Regions from separate parts of the Homo sapiens genome. Here region 2 is linked to region 1. The links come from fine-mapping of genetic effects on gene expression. Tissue or cell type: whole blood. Region 1 holds a variant in brackets; the other region holds the start of a gene. All regions are shown on one strand. Distances are from middle to middle.

Region 1 (2,755 bases):
ATTTTTAGTAGAGACGGGGTTTCACCATGTTAACCAGGATGGTCTTGATCTCCTGACCTCGTGATCCGCCTGCCTTGGCTTCCTAAAGTGCTGGGATTACAGGCATGAGCCACCGTGCCCAGCCCACAATTTATCTTTTTATGGAAACATCGTGTCAGCTCACTAACTCTTCACAACAGGCTTGAGAGGGCAGTACCATTATCATTTTCACCACCTTACAGGTGAGGAAACTGAGGCATCATAGAGGTGGTGTTCCTTGCCTGTCTCTATCACTTCCTAACTGTGTGACCTATGGTAAGTTCCTTAACTTCTCTGGGCTTTAGTTTCCTTGCTAGTGATTACTAGCAGGAGATAGGATCGCATGAGCTCAGGAGATCAAGCAAGGCTGCATTGAACTATGATTGCGCCACTGCACTCCAGCTTGGGCAACAGAGCAAGACCCTGTCTCAAAAGAGAAAAAGAGGCCAGGCACAGTGGCTCAAGCCTGTAATCCCAGCACTTTGGGAAGCCGAGACAGGTGGATCACCAGAAGTCACGAGTTCGAGACTAGCCTGGCCAACATGGTGAAACCCCGTCTCTACTAAAAATACAAAAATTAGCCGGGCATGCTGGCGGGTGCCTGTAAATCCAGCTACTTGGGAGGCTGAGGCAGGGGAATCGCTGGAACCTGGGAGGCAGAGGTTGCAGTGAGCTGAGATCATGCCATTGCACTCCAGCCTGGGTGACAAGAGTGAAACTCTATTTCAAAAAAAAAAAGAAAAGAAAAAGAAAAAAAAGAAAAAGAAAAGGGATAACAATAGTTCCTGGCGCTTAGGATTTTTTCTTTTTTTTTTAGACAGAGTCTTTCTCTGTCACCCAGGCTGGAGTGCAGTGGTGCAATTTTGGCTCGCTGCAAGCTCCGTCTCCTGGGTTCATGCCATTCTCCTGCCTCAGCCTCCTGAGTAGCTGGGACTATGGGCACCCACCATCACGCCCAGCTACCTTTTTTGTATTTTTAGTAGAAATGGGGTTTCACTGTGTTAGCCAGGATGGTCTCAATCTCCTGACCTTGTGATCCTCC[C/T]GCCTTGGTCTCCCAAAGCACTAGGATTACAGGCGTGAGCCACAGCACCCGGGGTAGGATTGTTAAGAACATTAAATGAAGGCCGGGCACAGTGGCTCACGCCTGTAATCCCAGCACTTTGGGAAGTCGAGACGGGCAGATCACAAGGTCAGGAGTTTGAGGCCAGCCTGGTCAATATGGTGAAACCCCGTCTCTACTAAAAATACAAAAATTAGCTGGGCATGGTGGCAGGTGCCTGTAGTCCCAGTTACTCAGGAGGCTGAGGCAGGAGAATTGCTTGAACTAGGGAGGTGGAGGTTGCAGTGAGCCAAGATCATGCCACTGCACTCCAGCCTGGGAGACAGAGTGAGGCTCCATCTCAAAAAAAAAAAAAAAAAAGAACGTTAAATGAGATAATACTGAAAATCAAGCACTTAAAAAAAGAAAAATTATATAATATATAATATTAATTATTATATTAAATTATATTAATCACATTAAAATAATATACTAAAATATTTAAAATATTATATAACAATAGTATTTTTAATATAATAATTTTATATTTTAATATAATATTGCTATTATATAATAAATAATTATATTATTATTGTTATGCACACTTGCTAACCGCTTGCTAAGGCCAGGCTCTTTTATTATAATAATAATAATTATTATTATTCCCACAAAGTTGACTTAAAGTTCAAGGTCAGCTTCAGTAAGAAAACCCTGTAATCCCAGCACTTTGGGACAGAGCAAGACTCCATCTCAAAAAAAAAAAGAAAACCCATTACCATCCATCAAGTGCCTACTCTAGCATAGGCAGTGGGCTAAGCCTTTGTACATGCTTTATCTCTGTCTTCCTTTGTTACAGTTGGCTCTGTCACCATCGTCTCCATATGACAGGTGAGCAAACAGAGGATCAGAGAGGTAAATTCACTTGCCCAAGGTCACACAGCTTAAAGTAGAGGAACTCAGGCCAGGTGAGGTGGCTCATGCGTATAATCCCGGCACCTTGGGAGGCCAAGGTGGGCAGATCACCTGAGGTCAGGAGTTCGAGACCAGCTTGACCAACATGGTGAAATCCTATCTCTACTAAAATACAAAAAAAATTAGCTGGGCATGGTGGCAGGTGCCAGTCATCCCAGCTACTTGGGAGGCTGAGGTAGGAGAATCGCTTGAACCCAGGAGGTGGAGGTTGCAGTGAGCTGACATTGCGCCACTACACTCCAGCCTGGGTGACAGAGCCAGACTGCATCTCAATTTTAAAAAAAAAGGCCGGGCACGGTGGCTCACGCACACCTATAATCCCAGCACTTTGGGAGGCCAAGGCAGGTGGATCACGAGGTCAGGAGATCGAGACCATCCTGGCTAACACAGTGAAACTCCATCTCTATTAAAAATACAAAAAATTAGCCGGTCGTGGCGGTGGGCGCCTGTAGTCCCAGCTACTCGGGAGGCTGAGGCGGGAGAATGGCGTGAACACGGGAGGCAGAGCTTGCAGTGAGCTGAGATCATGCCACTGCACTCCAGCCTGGGCAACAGAGCGACTCTGTCTCCAAAAAAAAAAACAATTAGCTAGGCATGGTGGCAGCATGTGCCTGTGGTCCTGGCTACTTCAGAGGCTGAGGCAGGAGTATTGCTTGAGCCTGGGAGTTTGAGGCTGCGGTGAGCTATGATGATGCCACTGTACCCCAGCCTGAGCAACAGAGCAAG
Region 2 (2,500 bases), 220 kb after region 1:
TGTCTCGAATAACTATATGTTTACCTCTTTATTCTGTTTGCTGTCAATGTTCCCTCACTAGAATAAAAGTTCTATGAGGATCTGTCTGTTTCTGTCCTACTCGTAGCTGAATCTACCAGCTTGAGAGGAGGGCTGGTGAGTTTGGCAAACATTTTCTGTAAAGGACCGTATAGTAAATATCTTAGGCTTCGCGTGGGACATGCCGTCTTTGCGCAACTACTCCACTCCGCCCCTGTAGTGTCAAAGCAGCCTTCCAAGCTGTTCAAGGAAATGGGCGTGGCTATGTTCCAATAAAGCTTTATTTACAAACCCAAGCAGGCAGAATTTGACCCGCAGGCCGCAGTTTGCCAATCTTTAAACTAGTTCAAAATACTGGGCCCAATACAATAAAAGAGAGTCTCCTATCAGGTTCACACCCCACAAAAGCTCCTTTTGATAGTTTCTTTTTTTTTCTTTCTTTCTTTTTTTTTTTTTTGAGACGGAGTCTCGCTCTGTCGCCCAGGCTGGAGTGCAGTGGTGCGATCTCGGCTCACTGCAAGCTCCGCCTCCCAGGTTCGCACCATTCTCCTGCCTCAGCCTCCCAAGTAGCTGGGACTACAGGCGCCTGCCACCACGCCCGGCTAATTTTTTGTATTTTTAGTAGAGACGGGGTTTCACCGTGTTAGTCAGGATGGTCTCGATCTCCTGACTCCGTGATCCACCCGCCTTAGCCTCCCAAAGTGCTGGGATTACAGGCGTGAGCCACCGCGCCCGGCCGATAGTTTCTTTTAACCATGTAAAAAATATATATATATTTAAATTTTCAGCTGGGGGTCCGTGAAAAACAGGCGGCGAGCGAGAGTTTGCTGACCCCTGATCAGACTGTTCCCACATGTCCCACACTCCTCCTGTGGGGTAAACGGAGTCCCTTGGGTCCCCTAAAACTGGACTTTCCCAAAACGCGCCACCAACCCACGGCGCCGCGCGCGCGACCGGTTCGCCAACCCTCTGAGCCGCGCGCGCCTCCCGCCAAGACCCGCCCCTCTTCGCGGCCATTGGCCGAGTCTCGCACTCTTTTTCAAGGGGGAACGCCTCCTCCTTCCGACAGACTCTGCAGACAGCCAATGGAACGCCGTAGGGTCTCGCGCCCCGCCCTCTTGGGGGCCCGTTGGAGGCGAGCGTGGGCGGGCCGTTAGGAAGGTGGGGCGCGGAGCCTGGTAACCGTTGCCGGTAACAACGCCCCGCCCCGTCGGGCGGGCGGGCTGCGCGAGGCTGGCTGGCGGCGGGAGCCGGAGGAGGAGCGGCCGCCGCCGCCACCGCCGCCGCCATAGAGACTGTAGCCGTGGAGACTGTTACTTACCAACGGGGACCAACACGCAGCAGCCGCTGCCGCCGCCGCGGGAGCCGCTGCCCGAACTCCCGGCCCGAACTCCAGGTGACCGATGCGACCGCCCCGGGCCCAGCCCGGCCGGGGAGTGTGGGGGGCGGCGGGGACCCCGTTCGGGGGCCGGGGGGCGGGCAGCACGTCCCCGCCGCTCACCCCAAACGTCCGGGTGGTGCGCCCGCGGGACCCGCCTCCGCCACCCCGTCCGCGCGCGCGGCGGAGTTTGGGGGGACCCTGGCGACGTCCCCACTTTCCTTATTGACTGAACGCGGGGGAGGTGCGGTGCCGTCGCCTCACTTTTTACAAAACTTCCTGAGGTTGGGGCGTCCGGGGACCCCTTTCTCACGCTTACCTTCAAACTCGCTGAGTTGGGGGCGCCCCGGGAACGTCTCTCAAACTCCTCAAACTCCCTGAATTGGGGGCGCTTGGGGACCCTCTTCTCACCTTAACCCCCTAGATCTCTGAGTTGGGGGCACCCAAGGACCCCTCTTTTACTCATACCCTCGAATTTTCTGAATTGGGGGCGCCAGGGGACCCTCTTCTCACGTTTACTCCCCAGATCTCTGAGTTGGGGGCACCCAGGGACCCTTCTTTTACTCAAACCCTCGAATTCTCTGAATTGGGGGCGCTTGGGGACCCTCTCCTCACTTTTACTCCCCAGATCTCTGAGATGGGGACACCCGGGGACCCCTCTTTTACTCATACCCTCAAACTCCCTGAATTGGGGCCACCTGGGGCCCTCTTCTTACTTTACTCCCCAAACCTCCGAAATTGGGGTGACCCCAGAGCCCTTCTGTCACTCTTAGTCGCAAACTTCTTGCATCGGGGGGACCTCGAAGACTCCCTTCTCATTTTTACCCCAAATTCCTAGATCTGACTTGTCCCGGGGACCCCCTTTTTAATGGACTCCCAGACATACTGAATTTGGGGGCACCCCTGGAACCTTTTTCTCATTCCTTAACTAAAAGCTGGTGCGTCTGCCCTGGGGAGAACCCCTCTTGCCCTTCTCACCTTTTCATCCCAAACTCCCCGAGCGAGCTTCCCCGGGAACTGTTTCTCACCTTTTTGCCCCAAATCCTCGCGTTCAGGTCGCCTCGGACACCCCCTCCCCTTCTCCCTGTGACCCCATATTCCTGA

What was found. PIP is the estimated chance that this variant, and not a neighbour inherited with it, causes the effect.
Region 2: it holds the start of RFX2, and the variant in region 1 is fine-mapped to the expression of RFX2 in whole blood (INTERVAL, PIP above 0.99).

What each region holds. Positions count from the first base shown.
Region 1 is chr19:6,333,908-6,336,662 of GRCh38, reverse strand. It overlaps a transcript of ACER1 not described here. Among named protein-coding and RNA genes, the nearest start is that of ACER1, 1.7 kb to the right of the region's middle. The variant C/T (reference allele first, on the strand shown) is at 1,061.
Region 2 is chr19:6,109,307-6,111,806 of GRCh38, reverse strand. RFX2 (regulatory factor X2) reads left to right here and starts at 1,307. Exons shown (of 18, transcript NM_000635.4): 1 at 1,307-1,414. RefSeq lists a silencer at 986-1,445 and an enhancer at 2,293-2,500.